Regions from separate parts of the Homo sapiens genome. Here region 2 is linked to region 1. Evidence: fine-mapped expression QTL. A gene starts in region 1. The other region holds a variant in brackets. All regions are shown on one strand. Distances are from middle to middle. Region 1 holds the start of KLRD1 (killer cell lectin like receptor D1). Region 2 holds the start of LOC105369656 (a long non-coding RNA gene).

Region 1 (9,249 bases):
TATGGTTACACATAGCTTATGTGACATTTTTCCAGGAAGCCAGCCTCCATAAACCCACAGATTCTAGTTTTATGCTTTTTTTTTATATAGTGTGTTTTGCTCTTGTCACCCAGGCTGGAGTGCAATGGTGCGATCTCAGCTCATCAAGTTCAAGAGACTCTAATGCCTCAGCCTCCCAAGTAGCAGGGGTTACAGGTGAGTGCCACCATGCCCGACTAATTTTGTATTTTTAGTAGAGACAGGGTTTCTCCATGTTGGCCAGGCTGGCCTTGAACTCCTGACCTCAGGTGATCCACCTGCCTTGGCCTCCAAAAGAGCTGAGATTACAGGCGTGAGCCACTATGCCCAGCCTTAGTTTTATTTTTTTATTTGATTTTACCACTAACAATTTTAGACAATCTAATACATCCTGCTAAAATCATTCCATTGATAAGGATTTTGCAAGCAAAACACACTATATATAAGAAACCACTATAGCTAGTAGGTTTGTTATTAGCATGTTTACAATGAGATTTTACCAGGTCAGTAACGTCTTTTGTTTTTTCTCAGGGAGCCCTCTCTCTCTGTTAAAAGAATAATTTGCAGCCTGATGTGAGCAATTTTCTTTCCGCTCAAAGAATGCATTTTCTAAAAGCAGTGAGATCAAAATAAATTTTTCCCTTGGGGATACTAGAACGTATACTGTTATTTTGTTCTGCAACATTTTAGTTATACATTTTTAGGTAGGGAAAAGACTTCACTGTTTATATGTTAAGTGAACATTAGTTTCTTTTCCCTGGCTTTTGACTAAGGTTTAAAAGTTGACTTAGCTATTGAAGTCATCACTTGCTCTTACCAAGGGCACTAGTAAATTGCAGGGGAGGAAGAGGGCATCTTCCTGCAATGGATACTAGGGGATGGAAAGTCCTGCAAAGAGAGACGTTCTTTTGGCAGGATACCTAACTTTTCAAAAGCAAATTTATGTAAGTGAAGCTGGATATTTCAGCGGAATTTAGTCTGGTTTCTCTCGGCAGCACACTCAGAGAATACTTTGAGTAGAAACTTTATTTGGAATTGTGTATGCAATAAATGTAGGAAAGGAAATGTAATAGGAAAGGGAAAGTGGAACGCAATAAAGGTTATTTTCTTAATCTAGCTTCTAGAGGAGGTGACTGGAACATAACACTATTGAGTAATTCTGGGAACTGGGCAAAACACAATGTTCAGAATTACCTGACTTTAGGGCTGAGACTGCTGGACTGTATAGCAAATCACAAGATTCGTTTGTTGACGCCCATTCTGGTGATGATTATTCAGCACTTCCGGATTAGCATGTCTGAGAACAGCAAGGCTTTCAGCAGTTATTGGAGAAAAAAAGAACCCATAGATACAGCTATACAGATAACTAGTTGGCCATAGTTCCCCAAATATTCCAAGGGACATAGGCGAGGCAATGATAACTTCAGGAACAAGTGGAGATGAGTGGGAGAGATACAGTACATGGAAATCATTCACCTGTCTACGTACAAAAATAAATAGAAAGAACAGAGGCCGGGCACGGTGGCTCACGCCTGTAATCCCAGCACTTTGGGAGGCCGAGGCGGGCGGATCACGAGGTCAGGAGATCGAGACAATCCTGGCTAACACGGTGAAACCCCGTCTCTACTAAAAAAAAAAAATACAAAAAATTAGCTGGGCGTGGTGGCGGGAGCCTGTAGCCCCAGCTACTCGGTAGGCCGAGGCAGGAGAATGGCGTGAACACGGGAGGCGGAGCTTGCAGTGAGCCGAGTGAGCCACTGCACTCCAGCCTGGGTGACAGAGACTCCATCTCAAAAAACAAACAAACAAAAACAAACAAAAAAAGAACAATCAGAGTTGGCAGCTCAGAAAGAGTTAAAGAGGTATATACATATATGTTTACTGTGTGTGTGTATGTGTGTGTGTGTGTGTGTGTTTAGGTATCTTAAATATTTAAGCCTGGAGTTCTTGAAGTAAACTTGTATTTGTTGGATTTTTATTTCTAAGTCAGTGAACTAAGATGAAAAAAAGGACAATGACTGATGGACGTATTCTCACCAAACAGGGTTCTAAAAACTTAGAACCTCTAACTTCCAAATAAAGGTGGTTGTGTTAGTAATGAAAGTGTAGTAATAATCCCTATTGCACATTCTGTCATAAATTTGTACTCTCTCAAGAGAAAAACTAAAAGCAAACCCCTAATCTCCTATATTTTGAGGCAATTTTACATGGGGGAAAAATAGTATCAGACAGGTTTCTTCCAGACCAGCTTTTTCTAACACTAAAAATGAATAGATTTCAAGTAAGCAAAGGATTTTTAAATAAATCACTTCAACTAAGATTTGCATACAGTCTGGATGAAGTAGATTTTACGCTTATATTCTTCAGTGAGGATTTATAGCTCAACAAATTTGTTGGTGCAATGAAAGCAGCTCTAGGCACACAATGCAAACTGAAAAGATGGAAAGTTTTGACTTCATAAAAACTGAGAAGTCAAAGTAGTCTTTTCTTTCATTTTTTTCTGTTGTTGGTTGAAAGCCCATCTTTTACAAAAGGGTTTATCTATAGTAATATTATAATGCTTGAACATAAACAATATACAAAATATAATACACAAAACGTTTATTTGAGTGTCTGCTTTTGTATGGGGGTGCATGGTAGATTGTATTTCCAGATACTAAATCATGGATCGAAATCTCTCCTTTCAAGATTCTTATTATAGCCAATCTCTTCCACATTGGAAATTTGACCTGTTCCACATTTGATATTCCTATTAACAAGGTTACTCTTCTGTAGATGAAAAAGTGTATATCGAAGTATCAGTATAGTATCTGAATTAGATAACACACTAAACAATATAATAATGTATTAGTAAAAATAAGGAAAATAAAGAAGCTGAAGTCGTGCTTAAAGAACTTTAAGAAAATGAAAATTGAGGTGTTGAAAAAAGCTTTTAAGGCTAACGTGAATGAGGCGTCCAAGTGGGAAACCCATCCAGTTCTACTTTTTTGAACTTTGCCTGTCGTGGCCAGGATAATTAGGTAGAGATCAGAAGAACAGAGTGAGACATGGAAATCCCAATTTATGTGACCTTGGGCAAATTACTTAGCTCTGTATGCCTCAGTTTTCTCTTTGATAGATTGAAGATATTTATATATCTTTACTATCAAGCCATTTACAGAAATAAATGAGCTAAGATATGCCAAGTGCTTTAAATTGTGTTAAGTACAAGGTAAATAATAAATGTTTATTATTAAAAGAGGAAAATTCTGTAAGTAATTTTGTTATGCTAAGTAAATTTACCTTTGGTTTGCCCATCATTTCCTTCATTTTCCAGATAACCCTTTAAAATGAATTTGATTTTCAAACAATAAAAAACAAAACAGCAACAAAACTCCCTCTGACCTCCTCTCACCTTCTTTAGTCCTTGCCAAAGTGTTAATATTGCAAAAGTACTGTGAGAATTTCCTGTATTGTGGTTCCTGGAACACTTCAGAGGCTTGTGATTCTACTGCTTCTTATTCACACTATAATACATGTCTCACCAATAGATGATTCAAGAACATCATTTAAATACACAATTTTTCATTCTCTATTTTTGCTAAATTTCTTCATACTCAACTTTCAGATTCTTTAATCTCCAGCTCAGCTTCAACAATTCAACGCTGTTCTTTCTGAAAAAGTACACATCGTGCCTTCTCTACTTCGCTCTTGGAACATAATTTCTCATGGCAGGTATGTGTGATTTCAGTCACTAAATTAAAAATAACCAGAAAAGCTATTTCTTGGATTGGCTGATTTTGGGGTAATGCTTTAAGAGAAAAGGACATGATTAACAGTGGATGTTTTTAGGATTTTCATGCATTAGCACTTTCCACATTCATTATATTTTCCTGATTCTTCATTGTATAACTTAGACATGATTTCATGAAGTTTTTTCCACAGGTTTGAAGAGTGGTTTCTGACAGGGCTACCTTTAAATTCTGAGTGAGAACTGAACTTTAGCCTGGTTAAATTGTGAGCAACAGTGTTCTAGTATAGCAATAGAAAATGCCAAATATTAATGACACAATGCTGAAAAGGTTTTAATTGACTATTTATGTTGTGACATCCAAAAATTACACAAATGAACAGTTTGACACATTGTACTGTTGTTAATGACATCACTCTTTGAGAGTGTGTTCACGTTAGCACAGAATCTCCTAATGTTGAAATGTTTTAGGTGAAAGGCCTAAAAGCAAGTAATTTTGAGTATGAACAAATGGAATGTTCTAGGGGAAAAAGGATTGTTTATGTATGTTCAATATACTGTGAAATGAAGCCAGGCCTCAAAGTTGTTACCCATCAATTTGTTATCAGTTATCACACCAAGTCCAGAATGTTCCTATGTCTTCTTTTCCCTATAATATCTCTACGAACCAATGAGCAGCTAGACATTTATCAGAGCAAAACCTGCACTGAGATGAGGAGAGGGCATACTCTCAACTAGTATTATTGTGACAATGGTAGACTACGTTGAATGAAAGATTCTTGAGCTAGACACACTTTCATGTGATTTCTGACTTGGATACTTACTTGCTTTGATACCTTGAGAAAATAACATTATTATTGGACCTTATGTTTTCTCATCTATGTAATGAGAACCATACTATCTATCTTGTGATTTTGTTGAGAGAATAAAAATAAATGCCTGTTATGTAAGTCCATAAAACACAACGTGGTGCTTGTTAATATCTTCTACCTCCAGATCTTTAAGCACCTCTGCCAATTTAAAATAAATGGTAAATTCACTTTACTGCAACAGAGCTGGTAGAGAAGAAAATGTTTGAATAATCTTCCTGAAGAATAAGATACATCACATAAAAATGTTGGTATTGGGTGAAGTCCCGATTGGAAAGTCTTCAGTGTTTTATTGGCAAGATGACTCCGTTATCAAATGAAAGAATGTTGTGGATTCTCCGTCACTAGTTTCTGCTTTTAAGAACTCAGCTCCTGAGTTTGCTCTTTAAGTCATTACTCTGTCTGTCTTTCTCTACAGTGTTTAAGACCACTCTGTGGAGGTTAATTTCTGGGACCTTAGGGATAATATGCCTTTCGTTGATGTCTACGTTGGGAATTTTGTTGAAAAATTGTAAGTTTTTCTAAGCAAGTCTCCATAAAAATCAAAACTGTGAAGACATCATTTAATAATAAAGGCTTCATCTTGCTAATGTGTAATATTTTAGTATTTCATAAACCCATACCTAATTAAACAAATTTCTAATCATTTCTTATAGCTTTTACTAAACTGAGTATTGAGCCAGCATTTACTCCAGGACCCAACATAGAACTCCAGAAAGGTAGGTCACATTTTTTGGAAAACTTAGCATTGGTAAAAGATTAAATAGGCAGTTTCTTGTTTTTCACACAGAGAGGCATGATGGAATATTATACTTAGTAATAGAAATTTGCCTACCAGTGTAGGATAGTCTCATTTTACATTGCTCAATCTAATGTAAAAATGATTAAATTACACTGAATGTGTATCATTTGTACATTTAACTAATCAGGAAAATAGTAGCCTGAAACGAAAGATATGTTTCCTATATGAGTGCTCATAATTAAGTAACAAAAAATAAACCACAGGAAATGTTACAGTTAATCCTCATTACCTGCCTGAATTTGCTTATAACCTATACTTTTGCATCTCACTACTTTTCCTTTTCCAGAATATACTGCACAGATTTCTAAACCTTACTTATCCAGTGAAAGCCAGCTCAAAGTCCAATTTTCGTTTTTGGAGATGGAGTTTTGCTCTTGTCGTCCAGGCTGGAGTGCAGTGGCACGATCTTGGCTCACTGCCACATCAGCCTCCCTGGTTCAAGTGATTCTCCCACCTTCCTGCCTCAGCCTCCCAAGTAGCTGGGACTACAGGCGCCCGCCACCATGCCCAGCTAATTTTTGTGTTATTAGTAGAGTCAGGGTTTCGCCATGTTGGCCAGGCTGGTCTCGAACTCCTGACCTCAGGTCATCCACCTGCCTCGGCTTCCAAAGTGTTGGGATTATGCCGTACCCAGCAGAGCCACTGCGCCCGGCCTCAATTTTCTAAATATGTATTTTTCGGAATGCGCCCCAAGTTGTCTCACCATCATCTTGATTATATAGTGTTTATTTACAGTGCAACATCTTGGCCAGGCACAGTGGCTCACGTCTGTAATCCCAGCTCTTTGGGAGGCTGAGGTAGGCATATTACTTGAGGTCAGAAGTTCAAGACAGGCCAACCCCGTCTGTACTAAAAATACAAAAATTAGCCAGGCATGGCGGCACGCACCTGTAGTATCAGTTACTCAGGAGGCTGAGGCATGAGAATCACTTGAACCTGGGAGGCGGAGGTTGAAGGGAGCTGAGATGGTGCCACTGCACTCCAGCCTGGGCAACACAGCAAGACTCTGTCTCAAAAACAATTAAAAAATATAAAAATAATAGTGCAACATCTTCAGCACTACTTATATGGCAAAGATTTGAGTGCCTATGACGTGTCATGTTTTTATTACCGTGGGTAACAAACGTTGAAGACACTATTATTGATAAACTGTATAATTAAGCCTCAAGATAATTGGTTTATTTATATTCCCTTTTCAAAAATAAGATATCCAAACATATATCAAAATTCTCCAAATGTACCATATTCTTTTCTGACTCAGAAAGTATGCTAAAATGTTTTCCTCCTTTAAATCTTTTTCATCTAGTTAACTCCTATTTATGCTACAGTACTTAGTTTTGAGTCACTTCCTCAAAAAAAGGTTCTTGTAACTGCCCCTCATCTTACACTCTGCTACATGCTGTTTTAACATACTTAATTTTTTTGTACTTATCTAAATCATCACTAAATATCGTTAATAAATTATTGAAAATTATATAATTGTAATTCTATCTCTAGAATATAATCTCCATGAGGAAAAAGCATCATGTTCATGTCTAATTAGTTCACATTAGTAGCCCCTGAAGTGTGGTGTATACAGTAGATTCTGAATGTTAAAAGAATACACAGCAAATAATTTTTGAATAATTAAATAGCATTGAAAAAAATGTCTAGTCTCCAGTGTCATTAGTCATGCTTTATGTTTTCTGTCAGACTCTGACTGCTGTTCTTGCCAAGAAAAATGGGTTGGGTACCGGTGCAACTGTTACTTCATTTCCAGTGAACAGAAAACTTGGAACGAAAGTCGGCATCTCTGTGCTTCTCAGAAATCCAGCCTGCTTCAGCTTCAAAACACAGATGAACTGGCATGTGCTGAGTCTGATTTTCTACATTTTCTTTGATCTAGAAAAATATACTATCTAAACAAGTTAAATACTTTGGTTTAAGTCATTAATCACATAGTAAGTGGATGGTTATATTGGAATTGAGTTATCTGTTCTGTGTACCTTAAAGTAGTCATTGTAAAATCTTTATTAAATTCCTTAATGATTATATCATGGGAATACAAATCAAGATAGGTGCCAAATAAAGTGAAAGAAACTTTTCAGGAAGAATTCAAAGAAGATAATAGGTCATTATATTTACCCATTTTATTTGAAGAACCAACTAAATGACTGTGATTCTTAACTCTTTTAATTGAATTTATAATATCTTTTATAATTTTATAGTTTTTGTCATCTTTCTGGGATATAAGCTAGTATGGAAATATGGTAAGAAAACGTACCCAATTCTTTTCTTTTCTTTTTTTTTTTTTTTTTTTGAGACAGAGTTTTACTCTGTTGCCCAGGCTGGAGTGCACTGGTGCAATTTCAGCTCACTGCAGCCTCCACCTCCTGGGTTCAAGTGATTCTCCTGCCTCAGCCTCCTGAGTAGCTGGGATTACAGACACCTGCCACCAGGCCTGGCACTTTTTGTATTTTTAGTAGAGACAGGGTTTCACCGTATTGGCGAGGCTGGTCTTGAACTCCTGACCTCGGGTGATCTACCCTCCTTGGCCTCCCAAAGTGCTAGGATTACAGGCATGAGCCACCGTGCCTGGCCCTAATTACCCAATTCTTTTTTGTTTGTTTGTTTGTTTGTTTGTTTGAGATGGAGTCTCGCTCTGTCGCCCAGGCTGGAGTGCAGTGGCGTGATCTTGGCTCACTGCAAGCTCCTCCTCCCGGGTTCACGCCATTCTCCTGCCTCAGCCTCCCGAGTAGCTGGGACTACAGGCGCCCACAACCACGCCCAGTTAATTTTGTGTATTTTTAGTAGAGACGCGGTTTCACCGTGTTAGCCAGGATGGTCTCGATCTTCTGACCTCATGATCTGCCCACCTCTGCCTCCCAAAGTGCTGGGATTACAGGCGTGAGCCACCGTGCCCGGCCCCTAATTACCCAGTTCTTAAGAAAAAGTGCGGCCGGGCGCAGTGGCTGAAACCTGTAATCCCAGCACTTTGGGAGGCCGAGGAGGGCGGATCACAGTCAGGAGATCGAGACCATCCTGGCTAACACGGTGAAACCACGTCTCTACTAAAAATACAAAAAATTAGCCGGGCGTGGTGGCGGGCGCCTGTAGTCCCAGCTACTCGGGAGGCGGAGGCAGGAGAATGGCGTGAACCTGGGAGGCAGAGCTTGCAGTGAGCTGAGATCGTCCCACTGCACTCCAGCCTGGGCGACAGAGCAAGACTCCCTCTCAACAAAAAGAAAAAAGAAAAAGCGAAAAACTTCTCCTGCTGCACGTGGCACCTTTGCGGATTATAGGTTGAGTAGATTATACCCATGGGATTCCTCCTTCACAATACCATGATTTTGGAATCAAATTTAATCTTTGATCCCCCGTGAAGAAAGTGTTCCATGAAAACTCTATCTCCTTTTAGAAGGTTTTTAATTCTTCAGGAAGTGAGATTTTGTGGTATTTTTTCTCCATATATGAATGGGCCTGATAAATGAGAACTTTCAGTCTTGTGATTATACCTTTTAAATAGGAAGTTAAAAATAATTTCCGTTTGTGTGATGGACAGGCTGAATCTTATTCTAAACACTGACTTTCCCTCAAAATATGTTATTCCCAGAATAGATTAAAATTAGATTAATGTGATTGTCTTTTACTTGAAGCAGGATTTTATGAGCTCCAGTCAACAATTTTACTGGATTGGACTCTCTTACAGTGAGGAGCACACCGCCTGGTTGTGGGAGAATGGCTCTGCACTCTCCCAGTATCTGTAAGTTTCTGGCAATCATGGCGTTTTTTGCTCTTTATGAATTTGTCCTTAAATGTGACTAGTAAAGGTAACATCCAGGAGCACTGTG
Region 2 (9,249 bases), 22 kb before region 1:
GGAGGTGTCATTTGAGTAATGTCAAATGAGCGACGTTTGACGTAGAGAGTCTCTAAAATATTTGAGCAAGGAACTGTTCAAATAGTGGACAGTCTCTACAACCTAAGACTGAATGGTTTGTTTGAGAAGTAGCATTGGGGCTAGATCAGAGGGAGGGACTGAGCAGAAATAGGTAGAAATAAAGACAGAGAAATTGTCAGGGAAACAAGAGTGTAGTAGATATTATTCAAGGTAGGTTGATGTATTCGTGAATGTCCAGGCAGGAAAACAAATTCTGTGCCAAGTCATTACATAGAGGGAAGTTAACAGAGGAGGGTATTTATCAAACAGTTGGAGAAATCTAAGAGTCCGTCAGGAGAAAGAAGACAATTCAGATATGGGCAAAACAGAAAGCTGGTACTATTCCCAGAGCTAGAGGAAACAAGGGAGCAGGTGGGTTTACCAGAACCACTTGATGGGGACTGGCACCACAGTGGCTGGTGCCTGCCACGAGGCAGTTGCTATTTGGCAGCAGTTCAAACAACATAGCATGAGGGAAGGACAAAAACACGATTCCATTTGTATGAGGCATCTAAAATAGTCTAATTCATAGAAGCAAGGAGCAGAATAGTGGTTACCAGGGACAGTGAGGAGCGGAGAGTGGGGATAAGGTTTTAGTAATGCAAAATGAGTAAGCTCTAGAGATCTGCTGTACAACATTGTGCCTAGACTTAACAATATTGTATTGTACATTTCAAAATTTGTTAATAGAGTAGATCTCATGGTGTATTCCTATCACAATAAAATAAATATTAAAATTAAATAAAACAGACCAGTACATAGCATGTGTGGTCACTGCAGGAGATAAAGCCTGAAGCAGAGAGGGGAAAGACAAAATAACAGGCTTCTCCCCTCTTCCTACCTTCCAAATCTCAACCCAGTGGCTCCATTGACTCCACCTACCTGGAAGCTGGTTAGCCATGGAGGTGGTGAAACATGTGTTGCAGGAATCAGCACCCCAAGAAACAAGCAGAACAGGGGAAAACCAGGGAGGACAAAGAGAAAAGTGACTGACAGAGTGGAAGAAACCAAATCTATCAATGCATAGAACCATTATATTTTGGGAGAGATACTTCTCATACTCAATCAAAAGTAAGACTTGTTGGCTGGGCATGGTGGCTCATGCCTGTAATCCCAACACTTTGGGAGGCCGAGGTGGGCGGATCACCTGAGGTCAGGAGTTCAAGACCAGCCTGGCCAACATGGTGAAATCTCATCTCTATTAAAAATACAAAAAAAAAAAAAAAAATAGCTGGGCATGGTGGTGGGCGCTTGTAATCCCAGCTACTCAGGAGGCTGAGGCAGGAGAATCACCTGAACTGGGAGGTGGAGGTTGCAGTGAGCCCAGATCGCACCAGTGCACTCCAGCCTGGGTGACAAGAGTAAAACTCTCTCTCAAAAAACAACAGTAACAACAACAACAACAACAACAAAAGACTTGTTAACACAATATTCTGTGAAGAGATTCAACTTACCTTGTCCAATCTATACATAGGTTTACTATAACATGTGTGTAAAATCACTCAGATAAATTATCAGTATGAAACCACATGTGGAGGGGCTCAGTAAGTGGGGAATAGGTGTTTTGAACAAAGAATTGAGTATAATTTAATCCACATACTGACACAGGAGATAAGTCCCCAGTTCTTTATCCATAAGGCTAAAAACCAAATCTCTGTAAACAAAATGTTTTCATTAGTTTGGTTCCAAAACCTGAACTTAGCTAATCATAGTTTTTGTTTTATACATTTTGCTGTGGAAATATTAATGTGCTGGGTTATAGCGTGAATCATCAAATGCCAATGAGGCTGTTAATTCATGTATGTATAAACACATATATTTTAAAATAAAAACTAATAAATTTTAAAGTACATTTCTCTCCACAAATTTCAGATAAGAAATTAGGGTCTCTGGGCCAGGCACAGTGGCTCACACCTGTAATCCCAGCACTTTGGGAGGCCAAGGCGGGCAGATCACCTGAGGTCAGAAGTTCGAGACCAGCCTCAACGTGGAGAAATCCCGTCTCTACTAAAAATACAAAATTAGCCGGGCATGGTGGTGCATGCCTGTAATCCCAGCTACTCAGGAGGCTGAGGCAGGAGAATTGCTTGAACCTGGGAGGCGGAGGTTGCGGTGAGCCCAGATCGTGCCATTGCACTCCAGCCTGGGCAACAAGAGCGAAACTCCATCTCAAAAAAAAAAGAAATTAGGGTCTCTGTATCCTACACATCATTTAGTTTCCACTTAAAAGTTTTTAGATGTATGGTGAGAGAACTATATATAAAAGAACAATCTATGCCCTATTCCTGTGAGATTTCTCTTCATTATCTGGCTCTACTGATGTTGCCAGTGTACCATGCTAGCAATGTTGCATATTAACCTGGAGTAAAATATCATTTCTGTATTTTCAAAATTCTTTACTACTATTTATAAAATAAATTCTTACCTTTAGATTGTGTTGTTGCTAAAATTGAAATTTAAGTAGAGAGTCGTGTGACTGATAAAAATGGGTTCCTTCTTTTAAAAACAGTCTGTAAAACCACAGCCAGTCAAGTCACGTTTATTCTAGAAATTATTTTTGCCATATGCTAGTTTTCTTTTCCTCTCATGTGAACCATCTTTATGTCTAGTCTGAAAAATTCCTGTTACAGTCACCATTCTGTCATGATAAGGGTTCTGAAATAACTCAGGGACAAACCATTCCTTTCTTTAAGCTTCCAATATGAAATAAGTCCTTTGTGTATCAATAGTCACCAGGATAATTTTTCACATGGTTTTATTTAACATCTTTCTTCATGGTACCTTAAAGTTGTTTTTTTTGTGTGTCTTTACCTGCCCATTATTTCCACCTACAAAACACGCTATCTCTAAGCACATTATCCGAAGAAAATTCCAGTTAAAAATCATCTCATAGAAAATATGACTAGTATTTACAGTCCAGTCAATGCTTTATGATTCTTATGTTATTTTTTCTTTGTGATTGACTCTTTCCTATTCCCTCCTCTTCTCTTAACAGGTAAATATTGTCACAGCTCTAAGTTTAGTAATGTTTCCTATGTTTACACTTGCTGGAATAACAAAAATAGCGCAGCTACAGTGCTAGTGATCAGCCACATCCATGCTTGTAAACCTCAGTTCTGGTCTCTTCTCTCCTCCTTAAGCTGTGTCTTCTGCTTTTTGCCCAGGTAAATTGCTTCAACTCCCAATATTGTTTGCAACAGCATCTTACTGTTTTCGCCAGACACGCCATTTCCTCTACCCATTACCCATCCACTTTATCCCCAACATCCTGCGGCCACACCAAGACCAGTGTAGGTGTTAACTGTTATTTTAGGCAGCAGCAACTCTGTGGTTGGAAACATTCTGTACCATA[C/T]GGTGTGATGTGTCAGCCACACCTGTTACACATAAAGTGTACTGATGACTGAGGTCTCACAGGGGTCCAGGGTCATATCAGAGTCCGGAGATTTCCGTGAAAGCTTAAAGTTCAGTCTGCAAACTCACTGTAACTAATAATGAATAGCTTATGTCCTATCTACCTCAATATGTTTCTTAATGGTTTTGAGCACTAATTAGGTGTTAAATACCCTATATGTTTATACATTAAACCATTCTCAGAACATATTTCCAATAAACTATTTAGTTGCATTTTACGTTTTACACATGATGGAAAAGAATCTTAAAGGGGTTATGTAACCTACTCAAGTTTACGATCTACCAAAAGCAGAATCAAACATTTGAAACTACTCACTTTTGACATCTTGTATTTAGCAGATTGAAGAAGCAGAAAGAATAATTACCTGATAAGGATTGATTAGAAATTAGTTTTGAATGCAAAATAGTCTTTGAATCATCATTTTATTTCGCTTATGGTGCTTTTTTTTTTTTTTTTTTTTTTTTTTTATAGAGACGGGATCTCACTTTGTTGCCCAGGCTGGTCCCAAACTCCTGAGATCAAGTCATGCTCCCATCTTGGCCTCCCAAAGTGTTGGAATTACAGGCATGAGCCACCGCATCTGGTCCCGTAACTGTTTACATTCAGTTTTGTTCTTATAAAGAACCTCACTGGGCACCAGGTGCAGTGGCTCACACCTGTAATCCCAGCACTCTGGGAGGCGAGGCAGGGGGATCACCTGAGGTCATGAGTTCGAGACCAGCCTGGCCAATGTGGCAAAACCCCATTTCTACTAAGAATACAACAATTAGACGGGCGTGGTGGTGCGCCTGTAGTCCCAGCTACTCAGGAGGCTGAGGCAGGAGAATCGCTTGAACCCGGGAGGCAGAGGTTGCAGTGAGCTGAGATTGTACCACTGCACTCCAGCCTGGGTGACAGAGTGAGACTCTGTCTCAAAACAAAAACAAAACCCTCTTTTTTTTTATTGTTTATCTGTTTGTGTTTTTTTGATGATTAAAAACCGTGGTGAAACTGTACCTAAAAGCAAAGATGGATATGCATTGTAAGGCACAGGTTTGAAGTTAGACAGCCATGGGAGAATGCAAGGGTATGTATGAGATTGGTATAGTCAATAAGTATTTGCTGGTATTTGTTTCATACACAAATACATGCATATATACAAATAACTCCGAATTTTTTTTTATTTAACACTCAGACCTCTCACAGATAGGTTGCAAAAAAATGTTATACAAATAATGAGAGCATTTCCTCCCATGAAACCTAACTTCAAACAAATCCAAATAAATTCTAAGTTTTAAAAAAGACCATCCATTTTGGTGCCAACATCCTTTTCAAGTGAATTATTTATATACTGAAGTATTATAAAACCTATAAATAGATATTGTTATATATAAACAGATACTTTTACGAATTAAATTATGCTTCTTAGAAGACAGAAGCATGAAATGGAGAAACGAGGAAATAAAATATGTAACTAAAAATTTGCTAGGACTTTAAAAACCACCCCTAGGTTATACAAAACTACGGGGATAACTTAGTTTAATTATCTGTCTAAATACGGATTTTTACCTCTGTAAGAAAGATCAGGCCAGGCGCAGTGGCTCATGCCTGTAATCCCAGCACTTTGGGAGGCCGAGGCAGGCGGATCATGAGGTCAGGAGATCGAGACCATTCTGGCTAACATGGTGAAACCCTGTCTCTACTAAAATACAAAAAATTAGCCGGGCGTGGTGGCGGGCGCCTGTAGTCCCAGCTACTCAGGAGGCTGAGGCAGGAGAATGGCGTGAACCTGGGAGGCAGAGCTTGCAGTGAGCCGAGATCGCACCACTGCACTCCAGTCTGGGCGACAGAGCGAGACTCTGTCTCAAAAAAAAAAAAAAAAAGTACAAAAATTAGCCAGGCATGGTGGTGCGTGCCTGTAATCCCAGCTACTCAGGAGGCTGATGGAGGAGAATCGCTGGAACCCAGGAGGTGGAGGTTACAGTGAGCCGATATTGCGCCACTGCACTCCAGTCTGGACAACAGAGCGAGACTCCGTCTCAAAAAAAAAAAAAAAGAAAGATCAGTCAGTACATAGTCAAGTACGTGTGCATGCATATATATGCATATGTATACATTATGTAAATATGTTGTAATTATTATATAATAAACCTACATTCAATATATCTGTGGCAATTTATCTATCTAAATTTGAACAAAAACTAAAAATTCCCAGCACAATCGAGGCAAAATAAAATATAATTTTCTTACAGTTATGCAAAATGACTCTCTAGATTTTAATCCGTTAGAGGTAGAGGTAGACAAAGGTTAGTGAGACTCAGCTTGACCACTGCTTGGTTGACTTTGAGCGTGTTTCCTTGATAATCTCCTGTGTCTTCAACTATGAAATTTAAGAACTATTACTATCAATATCATAGGGTTTATGAAGATTAGATGAAGTAAAAGTTATAAAATAATCAAACACAGAGCCTGGCATAAAGTAAACTCAAAAATTTTTAATGGTTTTATACATAATCATTAAATATCAATTATAGACTACATACATCACTATGAAAGAATTAGAGGTAAATTATAAAATATTAGCAATAATCCTTTATAAGACTCTTTTTTTAAGATTTACTTCAGGCTACTGGAACTTGAGAATGTATAAAGTGTTTAATGCGTACCAAATGAGTGTCTAGTCACAAAATGTTAGAAGGTGAGTTGGTTAGTCTGATAGAGTTTTACTGATCTGATTCTTCATCTCCTGTTTGAGTATTTATGTGTCTTATTATTCTGAGTTAGGGCATCCTTTTACCTCCTGTGTCTCTTTTTCTTTATGCCCAAGTTCCATCGGCAGATACTGACCATAGAGCTTTGCAATGTAGACAGTTTTGCCTAAAGGCTAAGACAGGGGCTCAGTTCCACTTCACTGACACTTAGTGACATTACGCGGGCTTTGGAATTTAGGAAGTGACCAATATGTTGACTTTGGTTTGTTATTTCAGAATGAGAACCCTAAAGGCCACCCAACAGTTCACCACAGAGAAACTTGTTTCCAGCCACATAGGAGTTGACAAGCTGCAGCTGCAGCTGAGCTCTTTGCAGCTCTTTCATGAGGTTCTTACACCTTGCTAGGTCCTATATAAAGGACTAACCTATTATTTAGAAAAGATACACATTAAGGACTCTAATTAAGAAATTTTGAAACGAGTTATGTTTTCTCCATTCTGGCTTCATAAACTTCTTTCTATGCTAAACAATCAGGGAAACTGTCAATGTTTTATTCAAAATGTATGTTGCTAATTCTGTGACCACTATTTGCACACTTCTTTTACTACATAAACATGTCACTTTGTAAATAGCTACTGGGCAGTGTAGATTTACTTATATGCATAACTTGAACATTATTTTGTTTCTTTCGGAGTCTGCCTATTCCCGAACCACATGTGGAATTGGTAGTTGCTTTGGTTTGGTTTGTTTATTTGCTTATTTCTTTTAGTGGGAAGCAGTTTTCTGGATTCTTTTAACTTGATACAGATGCAAAAAGGGGAAATGTTTGTGTAATGTATCTGGTCCATATCCATAATTGAATTTGTAATTTTTTTTGTGTGTGTGACAGAGTTTCATTCTTGTTGCCCAGGCTGGAGTGCAGTGGTGCAGTCTTGGCTCACTGCAACCTCCGCCTCCCAGGTTCAAGCGATTCTCCTGCCTCAGCCTCCCGAGTAGCTGGGATTACAGGCATGCACCACCACACCCAGCTAGTTTTGTATTTTTAGTAGAGATGGGGTTTCTCCATGCTTGTCAGGCTGGTCTTGAACTCCCGACTCAGGTGATCCGCCCACCTCGGCCTCCCAAAGTGCTGGGATTACAGGCGTGAGCCACCCCATCCAGCTGAATTTGTAATTTTTAGTTAAAATTGAAACTGTAAAATGATACCATATTTGTAAGAACAACAACAAGGCAGTTTCCAACGCCCAAAATATAACTGCAAAGGCATTGGACAACGTAAATTAAAATGGTATGTTGAATAAGAACTGAAAGTCAACATAGCAAACATCTACCATGGCAAATATTTCCTTACTTGGATTGTAGCTACGAAATGGTCATCTCTACTCCTTGGGAAAGGCCAGAGCAAGACCTATAAAGTCCACTCTTAGAAAAGTTCCATGGATAGAATGACCAATAGGAAGCTGGCTATTTAATTTAAAATGATGTTAGGATCTTTAACTCTAGGAATAATCAGAGGTAGAAGGAATTTAGAATAATCAGAGGTAGAAAGAATTTAAAATGATTTCATATTGCTAGGTAAATCTGTGTGATCTTATTTATATTAAAGAAAGCATTGGACATAATAGAATGCCTGATACATGCACGCACAAACACACACACATTGAAATGAGACATACATGTCAAGCACTAGAATTGGCGTGTAATGTGTGCTCAATAAATGTTCACAACTCTCCCCTAATAAACAAACTTATTAAAATGAAAATTGGTAAATAAAGGAAAAGTTTCAGTATTTATCTTTAATAACCATGCTGCAGAGTAACAAAATAATTGGTGGCAAGTATTTTCTGGAATATAAAATCAGAGGTTATGTGATGATGGTTACATGAATTTACACATGATAAAACTGCATAAAATGACATATATATATATACACAAATACACACAAGCAAATGAATGGATATATAAAACTACTAAAATCTGAATAAGGTCTATGGATTGTACCAATGTCAATTTCCTGGTTTTGACATTGTACTCTAGTTATGTAAAATATAGGCATACCTCAGAGATACTGTGCACTCTGATCCAGACAACCACAAAAAAGCAATTATTGCAATAAAGCAAGTCACATGAATTTTTTTTGTTTCCCAATGCATGTAAATGTTTACACTGTACTGCAGTCTATTAAGTGTTCAAAATTATTATATCTAAAAAACAATGTACATACCTTGATTAAAAATATTGCCAGAAAATGTTAACAATCAGCTGAGCTTTCAGAGAGTCCTAGTCTGTTTCTGTTTCTGGTGGATCTTGCCTCATTGATGGCTGCTGACTGATCAGGGTGGTGGTTGTTGAAGGCTGGGGTGACAGTGGCAATTTCTAAAAATAAGACAACAATGAAGTTTGCTGCATTGACTGACTCTTCTTTTCACAAAAGATTTCTCTGTAGTCTATGATGCTGTTTCATTGCATTTTACCCACAGTAGAACTTTCAAAATTGGAATCAATCCTTTCAGACCCTGCCACTGCTTTATCAACTACATTTTTTGTAATATTCTAAATTCTTTGTTGTCATTTCAACAATGTTCACAACATCTTCACCAGGAGTAGATTCCATCCCAAGAAATGTCTCTTTCCTCATCTATAAAAAGCAGTTCCTCACCCATGAAAGCTCTGTCACAAGATTGCATCAATTCAGCCACATCTTTTTTTTTTTTTTTTAATCCTATACTATTTTAAGTTCCAGGATACACAAGCAGAACGTGCAGGTTTGTTACATAGGTATACATGTGCCATGGTGGTTTGCTACACCTATCAACCCATCGTCTAGGTTTTAAGCCCTACATGCATTAGGTATTTGTCCTAATGCTCTCCTTCCCCTTGCCCCCCACCTTCTGATAGGCTGCGGTATGTGTTGTTCCCCTCCCTGTGTCCATGTGTTCTCACTCTTCCACTCCCACTTGTGAGTGAGAACATGTGGTGTTTGGTTTTCTGTTCCTGTATTAGTTTGCTAAGGATGATGGCTTCCAGCTTCATCCATGTCCCTGCAAAGGACATAATCTCATTCTTTTTTATGGCTGCGTAGAATT

What was found.
Region 2: its variant is fine-mapped to the expression of KLRD1 in whole blood (TOPMed, PIP 0.97).

Annotation. Positions count from the first base shown.
Region 1 is chr12:10,304,353-10,313,601 of GRCh38, forward strand. KLRD1 (killer cell lectin like receptor D1) reads left to right here and starts at 3,518. Exons shown (of 6, transcript NM_002262.5): 1 at 3,518-3,732; 2 at 5,036-5,128; 3 at 5,274-5,336; 4 at 7,112-7,263; 5 at 9,058-9,161. The coding sequence starts at 3,726.
Region 2 is chr12:10,282,751-10,291,999 of GRCh38, forward strand. LOC105369656 (a long non-coding RNA gene) reads right to left here and starts at 8,494. Exons shown (of 2, transcript XR_931353.3): 1 at 8,388-8,494. It also overlaps a transcript of KLRD1 not described here. The variant C/T (reference allele first, on the strand shown) is at 3,413.